Linked DNA regions of Homo sapiens. The protein of the gene in region 6 purifies or fractionates together with the protein of the main gene of each other region. This does not show direct contact. Each region holds a gene or a part of one and is shown on either strand. Other genes may lie near its edges.

Region 1 (3,527 bases), on a different chromosome or scaffold from region 6:
AGCTTACTACTACCAAGCAATTATAAATCCTTCTCAAAATAAACTATCATTAAAATTCTTGGGACAAAAAGTCACAAAGAAAATTAATATGACAAGTAGAAAAATCATGAATGAAAGAACAGTTAAAAAAAAAAAAAGGCCCATGAATGAGGCATGTACTGAGCCTGAATGTAATAAAAGAACTTACTATCATCTCCCAGCTTAGAAGCATATTCATTAATTAATTCTTCTCCAACTTCCACAATTTGCTCACTATTTCTTGAGTTTTCTTCTCTCCATTTTCTCATTTTATCTCTCATTTCTGAAAAAAATAACATGACATTTAAGTGTATATGTACCCAGACACACACATACACATCCGATAGATGTCAAAAACCTGACAAGACAAAATCAGCTTTTTAGGTAAGGAAAATAAACTCACAATCATGTAGAAGTCTGTGGTATCTCAAATTTGATAAAGTAGAAAATTAATTGAACAAGGGCAACAGATCCTTTAGAAGACTGAAACAGCATTACAACTGGTATTATGACTATCTTTAGAAGTGATGAATGGGCCAGGCACGGTGGCTTACATCAGTAATGCCAGGACTTTGGGAGCCCAAGGTAGGACAATCACTTGATCCAGGAGTTCAAGACCAGCCTGGCCAACGTGGCGAAACCTTGTCTCTACTAAATATACAAAAATTAGCCAACTATGGTGGCACACACCTGTAATCCCAGCTACTCAGGAGGCTGAGGCAGGAGAATCGCTTGAACCCAGGAGGCAGAGATTGCGTGAGCCGAGATCGTGCCACTGCACTCCAGCTTGAGTGACAAAGCAAGACTTTGTCTCAAAAAAAAAAAAAAAAGGCAGCATGGTGGCACCCGCCTGTGGTCCCAGCTACTCAGGAGACTGACGTGAGAGGATCACTTGAGCCTGGAGGTTGATGCTGCAGTGACCTGTGATTGCACCACTGCACTCCAGTCTGAGCAACAGAGCAAGACCCCTGTCTCTTAAAGGTTGAAAAAGGAGTTCAACAGGCATATAACAAAGTAAGTTATCCTATACAGAAAGAACTACTGGTAGCTGGGAATTAAATAAACACACTAGGATCAGGAAATGAGTGTATAAGAAGTAAGAAGAGTGAGTTTCTTGGAAGACTTTTATTTCATACTAGAGAACTTTAAAGTTTGTTTTTAAAGGTACAGAAGAACAACTTAAAAATGCTGAGCAAAAGAAAAGCAACACAATCATGGCTGTCTGACAGGAAAATCATTCTGGTGCAAAAAAAAAGAAACCACTAGAATTTTAAATTTTATATGTCAATTTTAAAAATAAATAAATTTGAAACCAAAACAAAAAGCCCCAGAAGATAAACTGGAAAGGAGTAAACAGTTCAAAGAAAAGAAACTGGTTGTATTAGTCCGTTTTCCCACTGCTGATAAAGACGTACCCGAGACTGGGCAATTTACAAAAGAAAGAGGTTTAACTGGACTTGCAGTTCCACGTGGCTGGGGAGGCCTCACAATGATGGCAGAAGACAAGAAGGAAAAAGTCATATCCTACGTGGATGGCAGCAGGCAAAGAAAGAGAGCTTGTGTAGAGAAACTCCTGTTTCTAAAACCATGAGATCTTGTGAGACCCATTCACTATAATGAGAACAGCATGGGAAAGACCTGTCCCCATGATTCAATCATCTCACAGTGGGTCTCCTCCTCAACACATGGGAATTATGGGTGCTACAAGATGAGATTTGGGTGGGGACACAGAGCCAAACCATATCACCAGTCATAGAGGACGTATAGTATACTGGAAAGAACATGGACTTGATACACTTGGTTTGAATCTAAACTCCATCTTTTACATGACCTTACATAACTTACCGAATCTGTACTTAGTTTCCAATACCAATGAATAGAGATAATATTACCTTTAGCTCAGGGATGAGCAGTTAAGATTACATAAAATATATATAAAGTTGCTTGGTTCGTACAATAGTTTGGATATTTTTGTTTTTAAGTTGATTTTGATTACCCTTAGATAAGGGTATACACTTACCAGTTCTTCACAGGCACCACTATTGTCTTTCACCCAACTACATGTATTTTCATCTGCTTGGCCCTTGAGTTTAGGACACCAAACACTAGAAAATTCGTGTAAAGCATTTTATAAAATGTGAAGCCCTACAAAAATTCTAGTTACTTTTATTTTTTAAAAAAATCTGGTAACTGTTTCAGCCTCTCACAAGAAATAAAGGCTCTTCCCTCACTCTTTCCTCAAAGGTGGCTTAAAACTTTCATTTTACCCTTTCACCTTCCTGCAAAAAGCTCGCTCCTCAAAGCCAAGGTCATTTTATTACATACTATGTAAGTAAGCTTCTCACTGCTTGCTTGTACATTTTATTAACTACTGTGCAATCCTGTGAGATGAGCTAAAGGTCAAAGGTTAAGAGAGTCGCTATGATTGTTCTGTTTATTCCTTCCATGACAACTTGCATGAGATGTCACTGCAGTGAGGTGGCCTCTGAAAGATGGAAAAATATGCCTGCTACTTAATTATGATTTCTTTAGTCCAAAACTACTTCCTCCAATCCTGTATCTTTTCCACTTCATTTTTTTATATATTCGGAAATACCACTTACAGATTCATTTACATAAACCAGCATATTCTTTTAAAAGGTTGATAATTACAGGATAATAAATTTTAAATTATTCATGGTCCCATAAAAGTATCTAGTCAGATTGGCTGCAGGCTGTTGGGAACAGCTATTCTAAAAGAAAAGGCAACCTGATTTGAAAAAGGAAAGGGTTAATTTATTTTAATGCACACAGAGCTCCAGAAGACGTATTTTTCAAACTGTGTATTACAATCCATTAATAGGGTATAAAATCGGTTCAGTGGATTTCTTCCAGCATCTGTTGGGGGTGGGGGGGCAGTGGGGGAGAATGAAACAAAATGAACAGAATGGAAGCAATACTCATTAGAATCCTTTGTAAATGCAACTTTGGTTTCAGTTTATACATACACTCAAAGATTCATGTATAGGTATACTTAATTGAGTATGAGTTAATTTGTAAAAGGTGTTTCTTATTGTGAAAAAACACTCATAGGAAAGAGAACTTTTTTTAAAGCATAACTTCTAAGAACGGCAGTCTGACACACAGTCACATATTAAAATATAATAGCTGAACACAAAACAAGAAACACTGTGTATGAAAATATAACTTACAAAACAAGCAACATTTTACCTATAAACACCTTAAGCTATACACCTTACATAGCTGACCCTGCCACACTCTTGAGTGCTGCTGTAATAAATACATTTGTAGCACTATTAACCACATACTACTTTTAGAAATGCCTTAAATACATTTATCTAAAAAAATTATTTGTAAAAATAAAACCATCTTGAAGAAAACATGTTTTCACCTTTGATAGCTCATTACCTCAAAATCACAGCATCCGAAAATCAAGTCATCTTCATTTCCTAAAAATATGGCCTCCCTTCCCAATGTTCACATTTCTGTTAATTCCACCTTCTGTTAAT
Region 2 (3,294 bases), on a different chromosome or scaffold from region 6:
AGCAAGTGCCAGCCATGCTGCCCCGTGGCCTTTGGTTACCAGGAGGCTGTCTGGGCAGGACAAGAGGAGCACCTATCTCAGGTCCACAGTCCGCCAACAAGCCCAGCTAATTTTTTGTCATTTTTGTAGAGATGGGGTTTCACCATGTTGCCCAGGCTGGTCTCGAACTCCTGGGCTCAAGTGATCCTCCTGCCTCAGCCTCCCAAAGTGCTGGGATTACAGGCCTGAGCCACCGCAACCGGCTTTGGGTCCACAGTCTTCACAGTTCCCAAGGCATGTTCACCTTGGTTTAGCCTTACTGTGGCCTTGTGGGTTCAGGGTTACCATCCTCATTTTACAGATAGGGACAGTAAGGCTGGCAGAGAGGCCTGTCCTGCCCCAGGTGACAATTTCTCTAGGATCCTGAGCCTTGCCCTGGTCCTACACGCCCTTGGGGACCTCCTCAGGAGGAGGAGCCAGGGGCAGTGGTGCAGAAAGACTACCCAGGTGTATGATGTCACGGACAGGCAGGGAGGTTTTGGGGGCATTTATTTCCGATAGAGACTGGCACAAGCTTTGGGCTAAGGACACCCGCCCCCACCCTCATCTAGAAACAATCTCTCTCGCCAGACTTGATGGCTCACGCCTGTAATCCCAGCATTTTGGGAGGCCGAGTCGGGCGGATCACAAGGTCAAGAGATGGAGGCCATCCTGGCCAACATGGTGAAACCCCATCTCTACTAAAAATACAAAAATGAGCTGGGCATGGTGGCGTGTGCCTGTAGTCCCAGCTACTCAGGAGGCTGAAGCAGGAAAATCGCTTGAACCCGTGAGGCAGAGGTTGCAGTGAGCCAAGATCGCGCCAGCCTGGCGACAGAGTGAGACTCCGTCTCAAAAAAAAAAAAAAAAAAATAGTAAAGAAAAGAAACAATCTCTCTCAGGGTCCAGAAGCTTCAGGGCGTGTCCCAGCTCAGGCTCTGCAGCCTGGGCCAGGGAGGAGGTGGAGGGACACGTGGGCCCCTCTGGAACCCCTCAGGAAGCCCCCTCGGCAGGAGTGCTGAACGCGAGGTGCGTGGTGTATCTTCTCACACTCCCTGCCTCCTCTGGGCCTGATAGGGAAGTGCTCCTGCAGCTGTTGAAGCTTGGGAGGGGAGGAGAGAGGGAGAGATGATGGATGCTGAAGAAAGGCTCTGGCCGAGATCCCACAGCCATTGGCTAGCATGCTCTGACCCATCGCATAGGGGAAACTGAGACTCCACTGGCTGGGCAGAATTAACCAAAGGGACTGAGGCGATTCCTTCAAACCTCACAAATCTAGCTCATTGCTCCTGCTCCCCATCACTCTCCCCCTCCACCCTCCACACCTCAGGACCCCGCTCAAACATTATCTGCCTGTCTCCCCTGATCAAAACCCACTCCCGGCTCCCATAGGCTGCAGGATACAGCCCAGTTCCTCAGCTAGGCACCTGGGGCCCCTGGCCTGGCCTGGCTGCATGCACCCCTCCTGCCCCTCCTGCCCCCACACCTCCCCACCCCCTTTTTAGTCACTCCCTCTCCCCCTCCTCCCCAAATCCCAACAGGGCTAGGTCTCCCCTTTTCTCTAGGAAGCCTTGTGGACACTCTCTGTGCCCCAGGCTCAGGCACCTGAGCTCTGTATGAAATCCTGACACCCCCCCCTTTTTTTTTTTAAATGGAGTCTCACTCTGTCACCCAGGTTGGAGTGCAGTGATGCAATCTCAGCTCACTGCAACCTCCACCTCCCAGGTTCAAGCCATTCTCCTTCCTCAGCCTCCTGAGTAGCTGGGATTACAAGCACGTGCCACCACACCCGGCTAATTTTTTGTATTTTTAGTAGAGCTGGGGTTTCACTATGTTGGCCAGGCCGGTCTTGAACTCCTGACCTCAGGTGATCTGCGGGCCTCAGCCTCCCAAAGTGCTGGGATTACAGGCGTGAGCCACCGCACCCGGCCTGTATGGCGTCTTGAGGCAATGCTCAGAGCTTGGTGTGAAAGCAATTCACCTCCTCCTTGGGCGCCTCCCCGACTGGGGTGTCCGCAGGCGGCACCCACTTGCAATCCCAGATGCTGCCACCAGGGGGTGCACAGTGCCCGCTTGGAAGGTGGGCAGGGGCGGGCGGGGAGGAACTAGAGAGGGAGGGGTTAATGCCCAAGGGCCCCGCCCCTCCCAAGAGGCATGGGCGGTCTCAGCCCGGTCCACTCACCAGGTGTATATGAGCACAGCCAGGAGGACCGTGAGGAGGACGGCCAGGAGGATAGACAGGATGGCGATGATGACCACGGTGCCCGGGCTCTGGGGGCCGGGGACAGCCCGAAGTGCCTGGGCTGAGGGCAGTGATGGGGGCCGCACAGGCGGGCAGGAAAAGAAATTTTACCTGACCGGAAGGGGCCCTTGGGCAGAATCCAGACCAATCACCGCCCTGCCTCCCCTACTACCACCCAGGCCTGGGGGAAGGGGGTGGCTGGGGGAGGGGCGCCTGCAGATTGCAAGATGGTTGGCTGCCTCTGACTCAGTGGTGAGCTGACCTGTTCCCCCAGCCCATCCTCAGTCCTCAGGACCCCCAGGCCCCAGCCCCCTGCCCCTACTGTTTGACCGGAGCCTCTGGCCCCTACCTTGCTGCAGGCGAGTGTCGCTGGACCACTTGGTTTCAGCCACGGGTCCTTCGTCATTCATCACCAGGAACTTCACCCTGAATGGGAGACCCAGCATTGGACATGGGGGTCCCCCGGAGTCCTGAAACCATCAGACTTGGTGCCTGCAAGTCTGTCCCCTGGAGTCCCAGGCCCTGGCGAGAGCAGCCCGGGGAGGGGGCCGGAGGCTGGGGCGAAAGAGCCCAACAGAATGGGTTCAAATCTAGGTGTGACATTTCCAGTGGTGTGACGTCCCTCCCCCTCTCTGGGCTTCTGTGTCCTCATTTGGGAAAGGTAGAGGGCGAGTATTAGATGTCTCAGAACTGAACATGCGTGAATCAAGCATTTAGTGAGGGGAGACCCTGTCTGGATGGAGAGACGCCACCTGAGTGGTCCACACAGCCTGTGGGGACTGGGGCTTGAGGTGGGGAACCTTCTGCTCAAGAAAAGCAGGATAGGCCAGGCATGGTGGCTCACGTCTGTAATCCCAGCACTTTGGGAGGCCAAGGTGGGCCTTCAAGATCACTTGAAGCCAGGAGTTGAGACCCGCCTGGCCAACATGGTGAAACCTCATCTCTACTAAAATTACAAAAATTAGCCAGGCATGGTGGCAGGTACCTGGCCAACATGGCGAAACCCTGTCTCTACTAAAAATACAAAAAGTAGT
Region 3 (3,527 bases), on a different chromosome or scaffold from region 6:
CAGGCTGGAGTGCAATGGCGTAGGCTCGGCTCACTGCAACCTCTGCCTCCCCGGTTCAAGCGATTCTCCTGCCTCAGCCGTCCAAGTAGCTGGGATTACAGGCACCCACCACCACACCCGACTAATTTTTGTACTTTTAGTAGAGATGAGTTTCACCACGTTGGCCAGGCTGGTCTCGAACCCCTGACCTCAAGTGATTCACCTGCCTCAGCCTCACAAAGTGCTGAGATTACAGGCGTGACCCACCGCCCCAGGCCTCTGTAATTTCTTAATGATGTCTTTTCTGCCACTACCGCCCTGCCCCCGCCTTGGGGGATCTAGGGCTCAGGGCCAATTGGGTAGAACCCCTGGAGGGAAAAGGGGTATCTAGGTTGCTGGGCTGGCCCAGAATCTGGCCACCACAATGTAGAAACTCAGGCCCTCATTTCAGCAGGCCTCCAACCCCACCGCACGCCCCATTCTGTTCTAGCTCACTGAAGCCACAGGCTGAAACAGGGGGCTACATCTCCCAGCAAGCTGTAACTTCAGAAGGCGAGGTGCCCAGAGTCCTAAACAACAATCCACAGACTATTTTCCATCATGGTATGGGGAGTTTTGTTTGTTTGCTGTTTTATTTTTTCTGAAACAGGTTCTAGCTCTGTCATCCCGGCTGGAGTACAGTGGCACGATCACGGCTCACTGCAGCCTCGACCTCCGGGCTCAAGCAATCAATCCTCCCGCCTCAGCCTCCTGAGTGGCTGAGACTACAGGCATGTGTCACCAAGCCCAGCTAATGTTTGAAATTTTTGTAGAGACGGGGGTCCTACTATGTTGCCCAGGCTGGTTTCAAACTCAATCTCCTGGGCTCAAGCGATCCTCCTGCCTCAGCCTCCCAAAGTGCTGAGATTACAGGCATGAGCCACCATGACGGCCCTGCCATCATATTCTGATCTAGGACTCCCTTTCTCTCAACGTCCAGGCCGTGGACTTCCCCAGCAAGCCCTGACTCCCGGGCAGACTACGCCAAGTCCACCGCCTAAGACTCCCTCCCCGGCACCACTGATTTACTTTCGAGCCCATTAACTAGCACGCCAGGGGTCGAGGACTTCGTTTCCCAGCATGCTCAGGAACACGAACTCCATTCCCCAGAATGCTCTGCACCTGGGTCCTACTTAGGGTTTGAAACCCTCAGGGGCACGATTTCTTCGCGGAACTCCATTTCCCAGCATCCCTCAGGAAAGAAGGCTTCCCTCCCAGCATGCTCTGGACGCCGGACTACATCTCCCAGCACGCTCTGGGCCGGCCGGCTCTCACCTGGGAAGGGTCCTTGCAGCTGCTGCAAATTCCCTAGAATTTTCTGGCTCAGTAGGTGGATAAGGCGGGTCACGACCTGGGGGCGTTGGAGGCCGGCATTTCAGTGAGACCTGGGAAGCGGCTGTCCAGGTCCCACCTCTCCCTCCTATGCCGGGGCTCCTGGGTGCCCGTTACCTGGGTCCCACCCCCGAGAGCCCCCGCCCTCACTCTCTCGCTTCGGCCCCTCCCTCGACCCCGCCCCTCTGTAAGCCCCGCCCACACACTAGGCCCGGCCCCCACCCCCCCGGAGTCCCGCCTCCGCCTCTCTGCCCCGCCCACAACAGGCCGCACCTGCGGGTACCGGCGTTTGATGTGACCCAAGGTGCCCTCGGGAAGCTTGGCCAGCTCCGTGTCGCGCACCGCGTGCACCGTCGTGGCTCGCGGCTGCCGGGTCAGTGCCTCCACCTGGGGGGCCGCGTGCATGATTGGGGCTGCTTGGGTGGGGAATGAGGAGGCCGAAGATGGGTGGAAAGGGGGCTGTACTGCCCCATCTAGGGCTCCCCTGCAATGGGGGTGTAGGGAAGCAAGCCTCGCTCGCTACCCATTAGAGCTCTGGGGAGAGGGAGAGGACAGGGATCCACGACAGGCGGAATCCCCTTTTTCCAACGAAATGAGGTCTGGGCGGGGAGTGGACTGGGTGACCTCAGAGGTCGGGAGCTGCATTCACCACTCCCTGGATTACCCGGGATGATGTGTGTGAGTTGTCGAGGGACTGGCCTGGAAAAGGCCAGAGGTCAGTGGGTGGGGGTCGCGCTCACCACGCCGATGAGGTCGCCGCGGCCGTACTCGCCCACCAGCTCCTTCTTGCCACTGCCTCGCTGGATCACGCTACGCAGCCGCCCATTGAGCACGATGTAAGTGCAGTCGGAGCGGTCGCCCTGCCTGAGTGGGCGTGGAGGTCAGCAAGGTCTGACCACCCCCAGGTCCCCACCCCTAGGCCGGGCCTGAGCAGCGCGGTGGGAGCTGCACCTGTACAGCGCGCGTCCCGCCTCCACTGCAGTCCAGTCGATGGCGAAGTCCATCTGGCGCACGAAGGGCGACATCCTGGCTGCCACCGTGTGCGCCGCACTCAGCACCACACTGGGCTGTGCGCGCATGATCCTGCAGGAACAGACTTGGGATGAAAGAGGAAGGCCTCAAAACCGTCCTACACCGGCGCTGGGAGGCCAGATCTGGGGGCTCCCTTCTGCTCTTCCAGGAGTGAGGTTGAGGGATGGGGTTCTGGCCACTCCCACGGGTTGGGGTCCTCCGAGTGCCACCCACACTCCAACTTCGGGCTGTCATACTCATAGAAGTCGGACTTGGAGATCCGCAGGAAGGTGCAGTCGCGTTGGGCTCGCAGTGTGAAGATGAGAGGTTCGCCAGTGAGCACCGCCAGCTGCCCCACCAGTTCCCCGGGCTGCGCTACGAACAGGCACACGTCCTCCGCCTTGTCGATCATGCGCTGGTACACGTGCAGGCAGCCCCAGAGCACGAAGTGCAGGCTCACGTCCTGTGCGGGCAGGGGATGTGATGAACACAGAACCCGGACAGCGTGGACCCCAGCTCAGGTCAACATGCCCCCACAGGAAAAAATTAAAGAAGAAAGGAAGGGTTAAGAAAAATATGAAGGCGCAGGGCGCGGTGGCTCACGGCTGTAATCCCAGCGCTTTGGGAGGCCAGGCAGGGGGGATCACTTGAGGCCAGGAGTTCGGCACCAGCCTGGCCAACGTGGCGAAACCTGTCTCTACTAAAATAAAAAAATTAGCTGGGCGTCGTGGCACATGTCTGTAATTCCAGCTACTCAGGAAGCTGAGGCAAGAGAATTGCCTGAACCTGGAAGGCTGAGGTTGCAGTGAGCTGAGATCATGCCATTGCACTCCAGCCTGGGCGACAGAGTGAGACACTGTCTTTAAAAAAAAAAAGAAGAAGAAGGCCAGGCGCGGTGGCTCACGCCTGTAATCCCAGAACTTTGGGAGGCCGAGGCAGGCGGATCAAGAGGTCAGGAGATCGAGACCATCCTGGCTAATACAGTGAAACCCCGTCTCTACTGAAAATACAAAAAATTAGCCGGGTGTGGTGGCGGGCGCCTGTAGTCCCAGCTACTTGGGAGGCTGAGGCAGGAGAATGGCGTGAAACCGGGAGGCGGAGCTTGCAATGAGCCAAGATCGCGCCACTGCACTCCAGCGTGGGCGACAGAGCGAGACTCCGTCTCA
Region 4 (2,745 bases), on a different chromosome or scaffold from region 6:
GAGCTCAAAAAGTACCAGGCCATTGCTTCTAACAGTAAGATCTATTTTGGCAGCAACATCCCTAACATGTTCGTGGACTCCTCATGTGCTTTGAAATATTCAGATATTAGGACTGGAAGAGAAAGCTCACTCCCCTCTAAGGAGGCTCTTGAACCCTCTGGAGAGAACGTCATCCAAAACAAAGAGAGCACAGGTTGATGCAAGAGGTGGAAATGTTCTCCATATCAAGATGTGGCCCAAGGGGTTAAGTGGGAACAATCATTATACGGACTCTTCAGATTTACAGAGAACTTACACTTCATCTGTTCCACCTCTCCTGCGATAGTCCTGGGTGCTCCACTGATTGGAGGATAGAGCCAGCTGTCTGACACACAAATGGTCTTTTCAGCCACAGTCTTATCAAGTATCCTATATGTATTCCTTTCTAAACTGCTACTCATGAATGAGGAAAGTCTGATGCTAAGATACTGCCTGCACTGGAATGTTAAACACTAAATATATAACAAGCTGTGTTTTCCTAAGCTGAGATCTGTTGAATAATGTTTACATTCGTCCCCCGGGGAAATGTATGCTCAGCCACCATTCAAGAGATGACTGAGAAGGAGATGGTAAGTTCAAGAAGACTGATTGCACCTGGGACCCAGGCCCTTTCTTTGGGATCCAGTCCCAGCCTTCATCCATGTGATTAAGATCCAGGCCGCTGAAGTTCCCCAGGAAATGATCTTCCACTTGAGCAACCTTTTACTTGATACGATTTGCACCTTTCTGTTTTCCTGCAGTCAGGGTGGTGGCCTGCAGGGACCTGAGCTTTGCTACCCAACCAGATTCCTCATAGAGATTCCTAATCACTAGTTTCTTGTATTCATAAACTCAGAGATACAGAGGGCTTGGTTTGAAGTTGGGGTGAGATGAAACCTTTGCTCTGAGCCAAAGCTCTGGGGCCTTGCATTCCCTGCATTGGGTTGATGACTGTCAGCATCACTGCCGCAGGCCATGCTTGACTAAGGTACCTGGTTTTAGCCACAGCCACCTCCTTGTATGTTACCTTTCAGCTCTGGCCAAGAGTGGGACAGGGTTTTAACCACAAATAGGAGCAGCATGCAATTCCTAGTGACTTGCTGCACAGTATTGTATCATAATTACAGGAAGTTTTTATTTTTAAAACTGGATCTGGGGTATATTCATTTGCCCCATCACCTCTGTCTAAAGGCCCAAGTCCTAGGGCTGCCATGGTCACAAGCACACTGATGCTCCTTAAGATTGTTTATCTGGAGCCCACATAGTGTGGAACAAAAAGTCACCTAGAAAGCATCCTTGGTCATCATTGTCTCCTTCCCACCTGGCCCAGAGATGCTTAAATCCAAGTTGTTTCTCCAGCTGTCACCTCCCCCAGGAGATCAGGATTCCACTGACGTCCTGGGCAGCCAGTGAATTTAATTTTCCATGAGAAACAACAGAGTTAACCTGTGGCATTAGGAGACCTACTTCATGTGGACCCTTTTTTTCCTTCAGTTTAACTTTTCTGGAGCAGTGTGCTGCGTAGTTCGGCCTGAGTTTGTGCAGCTTGTTAAGACAACTCTTGTGTACGCTATGTTGAAGCTCAACAAAAAAGTCATGGGACCACTTCTAGAAATCTTTCAGCTGTCAGGCCTGTCAGTCTCATGACAGTTTGTTGGTTGTGCCAAACACTTTATTTGGGAAAGGAAAGCCCAGATTTGAATGGGTCTTTCCCCTGGGCCTTATCCTATAGAGGCATTTGTAATATGGAGAAAATAATTTTTCATTTTTGCTCATTTAATTCTATAAATTCTCTTTATAAATGAATTTTGTGTTCTTTAGTTCTCCTTAAAAGAACTTTTGAATTATAAAAATAAAATCTTTACCTGTCGAATTGTTGCTGCAGATGATTGTTGTGGAAAATCTGGATCATTGACCTCTGTGCTTTCATTCCTAGAGATGTTTTATAGTTACATGAGCAAAAGCTGTTGCCCCAAAGTGATGGCCCTGGAGGCGGGGCTGAGGAACAGGGAAATGCCGCTGTGAAGTCTTAAAGCACTTCTGCTTAAACTCCCATGTGTGAGGAGTGTGCCTCCCTGTGCCCTCTCAGCTCTGAGGCTGGCCGTCTTTCGGGGTGTTCCTTTTGGCAAATATACACTGTAATCTTGAGTCTAAATTTATATGTTGAAATGCTACCTTTTTTAAAATAAGAAACTAAATAAAATTATTTTACTATCAGTGATTTGTGTTTTTTTTTCCCACGTCTTCATTTTTCTGTCATCTTAACATGCTCCTAAGGCTGTCTTGCACATTTCAACTAGGGAGCCAGTTTATTTGCGGGTTTAACTTAACTGTAGAGGCTTTTGTTATACTCTTGCCAGAATACTGCCTACCTGGTATAAGAATGTTTAAAACAAGGTGTCCACTCTTTGCTGACTCCTGGAATTTAACAAGGGGTGTTCTTCTAATCCTTTGTGGGACAGGGCCTGTGGCAGAGGGGCAAGGAGGGAGGATGGAGCATCAGGCCACTGGGATCCGTCCCTGAGAGCAAAAGTACTTCTGCACTGAGGAGGGGAGGAGACAGACCAAGCCAGAGAAGGACAATTTGTGTAAATTATAACTGGTAATGTAATGGCACAATATAACCAACTTGACTATTAAGATGTTAGCGGCCCAAGAGCCAGAGTTGGACCTGCTCTTCCCAAACGTTCTGTATTTCCTCCTGGGATCAATTTCCTGGTGATCTTG
Region 5 (2,860 bases), on a different chromosome or scaffold from region 6:
TTTAAAACTTTTCTAAAATTTGAAAGTAGGATCTTGAAAAGATATTTACACATTCATGTTCACTGCAGCATTATTCACTATAACCAAGAAGTGGAAGCAACCCACGTGAACATCAACAGCATCAACAGAATAACAGGCCAAGCGCGGTGGCTCACGCCTGTCATCGCAGCACTTCGGGAGGCCAAGGCAGGTGGATCACTTGAGGTCAGGAGTTCGAGACCAGCCTGGCCAACATGACGAAACCCTATCTCTTACTAAAAATACAAAAATTAGCTGGGCATGGTGGCACTTGCCTGTAATCCCAGTTACTTGGGAGGCTGAGGCACGAGAATTGCTTGAACCCAGGAAGCAGAGGTTGCAATGAGCCAAGCTTGCACCACTGCACTCCAGCCTCGGTGACACAGTGAGACCCTGTCTCAAAAGGAAATCCTGTCACATGTTACAACATGGATGAAACCTGGGGACATTATATTGAGTAAAACAAGCCAATCACAAAAGGACAGTATACTTTATAATTCCACTTATATGAAATATCAAGAGTAGCCAAAATCATGGAAACGTAAAACAGCATGGTGGTTCCCAGGGCCGGATGGAGAGGGGAATGGGGAGCTGGTCAATGGCTGTAGAGTTTCAGCTCTGCCAAATGAGAAAGACCTAGAGATCTGTTGCACAATGCTAACACTATGCATCTGGAGAGGGTTGGGGGGTTAAATTTTATGTGTTTTTCATCACAATGAAAAATTTGTAAATGTTTTCAAACTTAAGTGCCTAGTGAAGTGCTTGGAGTGCAGTAGCTGCCCTAGGCCCTCTGTCTCCTCTTCCATCCTGGGAACAGCAGCAGCAGCAGCAAACACTCAAGGCCCCTCACCCACCGTGCTGGAAACTGTGTGGGGAGCAGATGCTCAGAGTGAGCCACGGAGGCGGGAGGACCCAGCAGCAGGCGGGGGCTTGCCCACATGGCCACAGGTGAGCTGCTCGGCCTCTCGGCTTTGGTGCCTGCCTCTTGGAAGACTGAGGGGATAAATTGGTTACTAATAGATGTCATATAGTTAAGTAATGCAATGGAAAAGGCCATCTTCCAACGAGGTCCTCCCTTCTCCACCTTCAACACTGCTTGTCCCTGGCCAGCAGCCTTAGTTTAAAGAGTGCCGGAGACTAGGCTCCATGACAAGGCGACAGAGCCGGGGCACAGGCTAAGATGAACCATGAGGCCAGCTCCCTCTAATGGACTACAGCAGCCAGGCAGGGGCCACAGCAGTCCCGCTAGGGCCTCTGAAAGCACCAGGACACAAGGCATGACCCTCTAGAGCGGCCTCTGGACCCCAGGACTTCATTCCACCAGGAAAGAGCTAAGCATGACTTACATTAACACAAGCATCATGAAAGTGAACCAAGGAGGGAAAGACATGAAAAGCCAGAGGTAGGCTGTTTCTACATTTTTAAATACACTTTTCTACATTTAAATGTCACAGATACTTAGACTGCACTGACTTGACAGATAGACTAACAGCTACGAAGCACTTGTTGCAAATGGCTTGTTACTAAAAATGCTTTCAAAATATATAATAGGCCGGGCACAGTGGCTCACGCCTGTAATCCCAGCACTTTGGGAGGCCGAGAAGGGTGGATCACCTGAGGTCAGGAGTTCGAGATCAGCCTGGCCAACATGGTGAAATCCCGTCTCTACTAAAAATACAAAAATTAGCCAGGCGTGGTGGTGGGAGCCTGTAATCCCAGCTACTCAGGAGACTGAGGCAAGAGAATCACTGGAAGCCAGGAAGCAGAGGCTGCAGTCAGCCGAGATCGCGCCACTGCACTCCACCCTGGGCGACAGAGTGAGACTCTGTCTCAAAAAAAAGAAAAACAACAACAAAAAACAAGAACCATATAATAGAAGCGCCTCCCACCACCCTGTGTCCTCCCATTCCTCCCTGCCCCGTCCCACCTTCCCCAGAGACCTCCCCTCTGAATGGCCCTCACCTTGTGAGTCATCAGCAACTTAAAGACACTAGAGAGAAGGCTGGACACATGAAGCTGGAAAAACAAAATAAAGGCTAATGCAGACCACCGAGCCTTCCAGAACCGCTCATTTCCCACCACCCCCACACTCTCAGCCCCAGCATCCCACCCCACTCCCCCGCCAGGGCACACATACACCAGTCAGCACAAAAGGGACCATCTGACAAACTCTGAAAGGACTCCTCCAGCACAAGCCCAACTCCACCTCAAGACTCGGTCACAGAGGCCTTTGGAAGACAAGCCTTTGAGCCCCACCCACCCCATCCCTGAAGCAACCACAAAAATCACACCTGCCTATAATCCTAGCACTTTGGGAGGCCAAGGCGGGCGGATCACTTGAGGTCAGGAGTTCGAGACCAGCCTGGCCAACATGGTGAAACCCCATTTCTACTAGAAATATAAAAATTAGCCGGGTGTGGTGGCGGGTGCCTGTAATCCCAGCTACTCGGGAGGCTGAGGCAGGAGAATCGCTTGAATCCGGGAGGTGGAAGTTGCAGTGAGCCGAGACAGCATCACTACACTCCAACCTGGGTGATACAGCAAGACTCCATCTCAAAAAAATTTTTAAAAAATCACACCTGGATAGACTATCAGCAGGGCCAGCGTGCCAGTGGCCACTCCTTGTCTGACCCATTCCTGCTAATGTGGCCATGAACTTGGGGATAAAACAGTCACATTTGCTAGAACTGTGTATAAAATACAAAGCAGGCTCTGGCTTGGGTTTAAATAAGGGACATGCGCATTGGGCACATCATTTGGCTGCTTGGAGACCACAGTCCTCCCTCCCTGTATGCTTGGCTGTCCCCAAATGAACAGCGACCCCTGGATGAGGAAGGAGCTG
Region 6 (3,395 bases):
ATCTGTTGCTGTGATTTTTACATCTTGTGTTTTTTGAGACAGAGTCTCGCTCTGTCACCCAGGCTGGAGTGCAGTGGCACGATCTTGGCTCACTGCAACAACTTCCACTTCCTGGGTTCAAGTGATTCTCCTGCCTCAGCCTCCTGAGTAGCTGCGACTACAGGTGCATGCCACCATGCCTGGCTAATTTTTGTATTTTTAGTAGAGACGGGGTTTCACCATGTTGGCCTGGCTGGTCCTGAACTCTTGACCTCAGGTGATCCACCCACCTTGGCCTTGGCCTCCCAAAATGCTGGGATTACAGGTGTGAGCCACTGTGCCCAGCCCTATTTTAAAACTGAATTTCTTCAAGCATCTAAATCAGAGGCTGGCAGAAACTTTTTCTGTTAAGGCCCAGATAGTAAATAGCTGTTTACTTTTTATGGGCCATATGATCTCTGTTGCAACGCCTCAGCTTTGTCATTGTAGCAGGAAAGCAGCCACAGACAGTAAGCAAATGAATGAGCCTAGTCATGCCAATAAAACTTTATTTACAAAAAAAGGCAGTGGGCTGGACTTGGTTCAGGAGCCAGCTGTAGTTTGCCAACCCCAGGCCTAAAGAAAGCTGGAGAGGAATAGCTTACACCCAGAAAAGAACCTCTCAGTGAGGGAAACAGACTAAGAATAGTATCACACTACAGCCTTCTACCAACAGATGATACTTTACTTTAAAATACAAAACAAAATTAGCTCAGCCAGTTAGTTGTTTTATTTTGAGTTTTGTTTTTTTAAAAAAAGAAAAGCTTTGAGAAAATGTGTTAAATATCAGTAAAGGGCAGGAACACACATGGCTAGCTTTACAATAGCAATCTAAACATACACAAAGGCAAACATTGAGTAAAATGCTAGGGAAAGACGGCACTTTGGGGGCCTACTGCAGTTTTCCTTATTGCACATAAAGGTTGTGGATAACGCCAAGTCTTTAATTTTTCACAGTTATACTTTAATGTCATTTTATATAACGTTTATTTATATAACATACTATAATGTTAATTTTATAAAACCACCAGTTTGCTACTGTTGAATGGAAATAGAAGACAAAATTCTCCCCAATTACACTATGTAAGCTCTCTATAAAAAGTTCCCTAGAAGGTCACATCATTCCATGTTAAATTCGTCCTATTCTATTTTAAAAGTTGCTTTTCAGCTATTAAATGAATCTTTATGGCCTTCTCATTTAACCATTTTCATGGACATAGTACAACTTTCCAAGTAAAAAGTACCAGATGTATTTTATGTGAAAAACAAAAGGACAACTTAGGAGGAGCTGGCCCTACTATGAAGTCACACTTTGAACGATCAATTTCAGTGGTAAATTCCCAATCCATAGACTTAACACCCACACAACTGAAAATCATCCCTCTGCTTCTCCAAAGCCCACAATTGGAATAATCACAACACAAGTCAGCCCCTAAATGTCCATGCAGTTAAGTCATCCAGTAACACCTGAATTGTAGCCTTTTTTAAGTGCTTGAGACAGCAGATGTTGAGGTTTCCATGCTGTTTACAAGTCCTTTTCTATCTGAGTTCCTCCAACATATACAGGCCCAGACAATTTTCCACTGGCCAAGAGCTGACTGTGACACTTGGTGATTCTGTTAAGCCTTTTGAAAGGTGGTCATCAGAAGGAGAAGGTGACTTCTGCTGTGTGCGCTCCTGTCTGCTTTGGACCTTTTCAAAGGGCAGCACAGCAGGCAGCCCTTCCTTCTCATCTTCTCCAAGGCTCAGGTAGCAGAAAACCGGCTGCCTGTGTGTTCCATATGGGCCACGACTATAGTATACCCTGCTTACAAAAATAAGACTAACATCAAAAACTTTGGTTTTGCTCTTTACAATTTTTGCTAGCACTGGGTGACAAGATGTGTTTAATTTTTTAAAAATGTCTATGAAAATTGACACTGGAAAAAACTGTTTATCTCTAGGTCTTGTTTTGAAAGGATTGTTGATGAGTCTACTTGCTTTTCCTAGTTAAGACACTAGCAATGGTTTCTACAGTATTTCTCTATATGTTGTTTTCAGGTTTTAGAAAGGGGGATGATCTTTTCAGGTATCAAAGTGGTAAAAGCAGTATTCAGATGGGTTGTTTCTAAACTACAACTCTTGGCCACTAGATTCCTTTGACTTACTGTATCAGAATGTAGCAGCCGACACTGGCAATCCAGAGTGTCAGTTAAAGAACAACAGAATAGCTCAGAACTCAATGATACCAGTCTAATGTATATGAAAGACTTGTTCCTGAACTAATTAATCTATAGAATCAACATCAAAAGGCAGACAAGAAACTTGTCAAGTTCCCCACTTTTGAAGTGGAATAAGAAGTCATATACTTGTGAGATCAGCAGGCTGACTTTCTAGCAGCCCTCATTGCAGATAATCTTTCACAACAGATGGTAAAATCAGCTTTCTGATACACTCTTAGAACTCACAACGGGTGCACAGTAGGTTTCCAAGTGGGTGATTTTCACCTCTGATGAGATGCTCTAACACCCTGCCACTGTTTTTCCCCCTAAGTGCATCAGTGGTGTTTCTACATTTGGAAATTACTTGTTCACATTAAACATCTGGTATGATTACATTAACTTCTACTGCAGACAAGGACAGGGAGAGATAGGATGATGGGATGACGTCAAACAGACCAACAGACCTCTATTTTGGAAGGAACTGTTAGTTCTTTGTCCTAGACCGAATCGTTCATGGATAGCTGAGATACCCTTTTGCATGTTTTCTAAAGAGATTCCATTTGTCAGCCAAACCACAGAGGACATTTTCGGGTCTAGAGAACACAGCCTGAAGAGATCCTTGCTGTTTGCTTGATGAAACATTTGATGTCGCAGTGTGATTTCTGCCTTCCAGGCATCAATGCTTATTTGTCTGATCACCCCAGTAACCACCCTGGATGCTCGGATCCATATGCCCTTCCTGTGATTGTGTCCTAGGAAGAAATGTGGCCTTATTTAAATTCCAAATTTTCTTCCCTAGGAGAGAAAGTTCAGGTTTCTGGTAGTTCTCAAAAAGTGTACTAAAAGGAATAGCAGCTTTCATCTTCTCTCTGTCAGGGCTATACAAAAGTGTGCATCTCCTTAATTACCTGCTACGGAAACCACCACCATCACCATGTGATAGCAAAGGACCACAACCTTCTACTTTGCTCCAGCAGTAAATGGGCCCACCCTTATTCTGAGGAATCCAGTGTGGACTCAGGCATGAGGATAGGTGAAGGAAAAGAAAATCTGACTCCAGAGGGGACTATTAATTTAATTCCAGGTGAAATTAAAAAAAAAAAACAAAACAGCTTCCCAGAAACCTTCATGCTTGATTAGTTAGCAGCTCAGTTAAGACAATACCTTCCCTTTATT
Region 7 (3,527 bases), on a different chromosome or scaffold from region 6:
AATACTTCTTTTCCTACTAATTGAAGGTTGTAAAGCTCTGGTGCCAAGGTTTTGCTTCCAAAGAGCTAATTTATGACTAGAAGGATATTTTATGTCTTCAGTTGCAGCAACTACAAAATTCAGCAAATCAGAACCATCTGTGCACTGATACTTGACTCACCATTCATCTAGCAGCCTATCAGTCACATTAGTTTGCATCCCGCATTCTTGGCTCATGAACACGTGTGATGATCCAAAGTTCATAAGAAATATTAAAAATGAATAGCATCCTGACCCTATCTTACTGTACATGCATCAGGAAAAAAATGCCCTCCACACTCTATTTGTGCATACGGATAGTGGTCAAGGAAGACATGGATGCTGAGTTGCCTGTCCACTATTCTTGCTAATAACGGCAGTCTAAGATTTCCACCACCCGCTTAAAAATGCTCGAAATCTTAATTTTTTTTTTAAGTTGGTGTTGGTCTTTGGGAAGATGGCAGACTAAAAGAAGAGGTGTAACTTTTAAAAAATGATTTTTTTTAACCTAGATCTCTGGCATAAACTCTTTTATTTTCTGTAAAGAACTGTTTCCATGGATTGAAATATCAGCACATACAAATAACCTGGTTAAATCGAAGACTGTTATCACCAAATTATGGCCAAATTGGTAGGCAAAAACACAGGGCAATATCTAAAGAAAACCTGGAGAAAAGAAGCAAATGATGGCTTTCTCATGAGTAACATCAGATTAGCCTTTACCCTAGTCACATCTCTATGACAGTAGTGACTGCTTTCTTTCATAGTACATAGTAGGCCACAGATCCTATTTTTCTCTGTGAGACAACAGGTCAAAAGAACTTGGAACAAACTTTCTTGGTGCTGAGTTAGGCAAAATGGGAGTTAAATATAAGGAAGAAGAAAGCTGTCAGACTCATTTTGAGACCTAAAACAATTTCATTCGATAGAAAAGTATCATAGAAGGTAATCATAGGATAGCAGGGATTATGTTACTTACTTTTTGACTGTTTGGAGTATGGACATTTATACTCTGTCCTTTTGTGGAAAAGTCCAGTGGTCCTAAAGGTATTCCATGAGGGTTCAAAATTTTCTTGAGGGCTTGATAGTTTGGCTTTTCATCATATGCTAAACTATGAGCACATACCAAAAATTGGGCTATTTCACCTGTGAATTATTAAATTTTTTACATGTCATTCACAATTGGCAAGAATTGTCAAGACTCCAGTAATCTCAAAATCTTTGTTATCTTTGTCTTTTACACATTTACATCTCCTGAAGAAACTAAAAATGAACAATTCAATGAAAATAACTTTTTAAATGATATTCAAAAATGACTGAAATATAGTGACCTACAGAATTGATGAGACAAACTAGTAATGTTTTTAACATATTTTTGTTGATACGCTTATAATTCACTGATCTTATGAGAGGAAGTATATTGTAATAATTATAGTGATTTTGATTTATGAGGTGCAACTATTAAGGACTACATAAATAATACAACTGACCATACTTCACACTTTATGCTGAACTTCTAAAAATTCAGTTAAAGTGTTACTTATTATAAACCTCTTTATTTCTAAGGAAAAAAACTGCAAATTTTAATTAAGGCTTTGATTTTGGGATTATAACCGTATATTTAGAAAGGACCTTGAATTCCATGTTGTTAGCTAAGATTGAATTTAGAATGTATGAAACCTCCCTCATGTCCTCCATACCTAGCTAGCCTGGTACACAGCCTCGTGTTTTTGATTTTAGAGCAGTGGGAGGAGGAGTTGCCATCTTTTATTTTTTCTCTAGTGTAAAGAAATGTTCCCCTAGAACTACATAGTAAACCCCCTTTCCCCAAAAAGGTTAGGAACTACCAACTTTTAAATACAAACAGAATTAGTAACCAACAGTTACAAACATCACTGCATTAAAATATTTGTAGCTTGCATTTCTGTTTCATGTTGAGGTTCAACCTAAAATTGGAATAGAAGTGGTGATAATACCAAATACTATTTAAAAACTGGCATGTTTTCATTTGTTCACAGAGATGTTTAGATATGCCTTTCCCTTTCAAAAATATATTACTGACTCAAACTCAAGTACTTCTTACTTTCTCACTTAGTTGCTTATATCCATGGTGGGAAAACCTGGGAAACTTCATGCGTTGGCAGGAGTGACTTCCTAATCCTTCACTTCCCCTCTAGGCCTACCTCCACTCAAAAGAAAGGAAAACTGCAGAGGCACTGGGTTTCACTCCCTATAGAGAAAAATTTCAAAAGGAATAGTCATCATCGCTTTCCCCCTATTAAAGTTAAGAGTGACCACTTTCACCATATAGTACAGAGCTATTTCCTGGGAACATGAAGCTAACGTGGTTAAAATGTAAACTCTTGGTTCTGGGCTTTTCTTCCTTGACACTGTAGCAATTATGCAACCTGTTTTTTTCATCTATTTTTATCAAATTCTGTTATCTAGCATTCGGTCAACCAGATCTCTGTTAACTAGCAAGTGCTGCTATTTTATCACCATATTTATAACTGATGCTTCATGCAGCCCCTTCACAAGGGCTCGGGGGTATCCAATTTCTAAAGGGATGATTAAAAAATTAAATTACATTCACTACTATTTTAATATAAATATTTTTGTTTTATGGTCCTGTGAAGATTGGTAAGCCAAGTTTGGTACATATTACAATTCCATTAACCAGAATATCCAAAATGAGGAAGAGAGTTGAATGTGCTGGGAACAAATCACTGTTACAAGACAATGGAAAACTCCTGGCACTCCACCAACTGATAGCAGCTGTGCTGCAAAGCCTTCATGGGACTGGGGTTTGGAAAAATGAGGTACCAGTGAGGTAGGAGGGGGAGAAAATAAAAAGAGCCATTTCCATTATAAATTTATTATTACAAACCTGAAGCGTAGATATTGTGATGTAATACTGGTTTAAATGTTAGTCTTTCAAGATCTGGATTTATTAAGTACATTTTAAAATTTACTAGCATATTGCCAGAACTATAAAGCAAAATGCCTTTAGTATGAAATTATGATTTTTTTAATCATCTGCTTTTTAAGCCAGTGAAGTATTAAGTATCATTACTATCAAGAGATAGAAACTTTTGAAACTATTATTATTATGCTTAGTTGGACATGTATGCTGCAAACTTCTGGCTGTTTTATTTCATAAAATGTTTCGGTAATAAACTTTTGTAAATCAGTTCCTTCATTTTCATGGTTGTGTTCTTCCTAAGCACAACCTCCTAATTTAAGAGACCTTCATGTAATATTAAAGTTTCAACACTTTTTGCTTTAGAAACAGAAATCTGCATTTTATAAATAATAGTATGGATTCAATAAAATGGTTTGTGCTAAGAAACAAAAACTGGGCTTGTCTCCCATCTAGATTACTCATCTGACTCAAATCTTTAACAATAGAGTATGACATAATATACACTGCCCACAAGCATTTGTCTTGTACAATTCAGGGCATCTGGGCTTTCTTACCCTAAACTGAACAGTTCCTTTTTCTGCAGGAT

What was found.
Region 1: the proteins of SLC9A7 (region 6) and EMC2 purify together in Homo sapiens (affinity purification with mass spectrometry; one large-scale study listed by BioGRID and IntAct). This does not show direct contact.
Region 2: the proteins of SLC9A7 (region 6) and UPK3BL1 purify together in Homo sapiens (affinity purification with mass spectrometry; one large-scale study listed by BioGRID and IntAct). This does not show direct contact.
Region 3: the proteins of SLC9A7 (region 6) and PNPLA6 purify together in Homo sapiens (affinity purification with mass spectrometry; one large-scale study listed by BioGRID and IntAct). This does not show direct contact.
Region 4: the proteins of SLC9A7 (region 6) and ERLIN1 purify together in Homo sapiens (affinity purification with mass spectrometry; one large-scale study listed by BioGRID and IntAct). This does not show direct contact.
Region 5: the proteins of SLC9A7 (region 6) and ADCK2 purify together in Homo sapiens (affinity purification with mass spectrometry; one large-scale study listed by BioGRID and IntAct). This does not show direct contact.
Region 7: the proteins of SLC9A7 (region 6) and VRK2 purify together in Homo sapiens (affinity purification with mass spectrometry; one large-scale study listed by BioGRID and IntAct). This does not show direct contact.

The regions. Positions count from the first base shown.
Region 1 is NC_000008.11:108,446,597-108,450,123, reverse strand, and holds part of EMC2 (ER membrane protein complex subunit 2), read right to left. Parts: intron 302-3,527; coding exon 188-301; intron 1-187. UniProt on the Homo sapiens protein: Part of the endoplasmic reticulum membrane protein complex (EMC) that enables the energy-independent insertion into endoplasmic reticulum membranes of newly synthesized membrane proteins.
Region 2 is NC_000007.14:102,636,514-102,639,807, forward strand, and holds the end of UPK3BL1 (uroplakin-3b-like protein 1 precursor), read right to left. Parts: intron 2,687-3,294; coding exon 2,610-2,686; intron 2,322-2,609; coding exon 2,201-2,321; intron 1,121-2,200; coding exon 1,012-1,120; 3' UTR 512-1,011; downstream 1-511.
Region 3 is NC_000019.10:7,549,204-7,552,730, reverse strand, and holds part of PNPLA6 (patatin-like phospholipase domain-containing protein 6), read right to left. Parts: intron 2,825-3,527; coding exon 2,619-2,824; intron 2,434-2,618; coding exon 2,302-2,433; intron 2,215-2,301; coding exon 2,091-2,214; intron 1,738-2,090; coding exon 1,624-1,737; intron 1,370-1,623; coding exon 1,294-1,369; intron 1-1,293. UniProt on the Homo sapiens protein: Phospholipase B that deacylates intracellular phosphatidylcholine (PtdCho), generating glycerophosphocholine (GroPtdCho). This deacylation occurs at both sn-2 and sn-1 positions of PtdCho.
Region 4 is NC_000010.11:100,149,584-100,152,328, reverse strand, and holds the end of ERLIN1 (erlin-1), read left to right. Parts: coding exon 1-198; 3' UTR 199-2,235; downstream 2,236-2,745. UniProt on the Homo sapiens protein: Component of the ERLIN1/ERLIN2 complex which mediates the endoplasmic reticulum-associated degradation (ERAD) of inositol 1,4,5-trisphosphate receptors (IP3Rs).
Region 5 is NC_000007.14:140,689,934-140,692,793, reverse strand, and holds part of ADCK2 (uncharacterized aarF domain-containing protein kinase 2), read right to left. Parts: intron 2,035-2,860; coding exon 1,981-2,034; intron 1-1,980. UniProt on the Homo sapiens protein: The function of this protein is not yet clear. It is not known if it has protein kinase activity and what type of substrate it would phosphorylate (Ser, Thr or Tyr).
Region 6 is NC_000023.11:46,598,741-46,602,135, forward strand, and holds the end of SLC9A7 (sodium/hydrogen exchanger 7), read right to left. Parts: 3' UTR 511-3,395; downstream 1-510. UniProt on the Homo sapiens protein: Golgi Na(+), K(+)/(H+) antiporter. Mediates the electoneutral influx of Na(+) or K(+) in exchange for H(+). May contribute to the regulation of Golgi apparatus volume and pH.
Region 7 is NC_000002.12:58,137,303-58,140,829, reverse strand, and holds part of VRK2 (serine/threonine-protein kinase VRK2), read right to left. Parts: intron 1,165-3,527; coding exon 998-1,164; intron 1-997. UniProt on the Homo sapiens protein: Serine/threonine kinase that regulates several signal transduction pathways.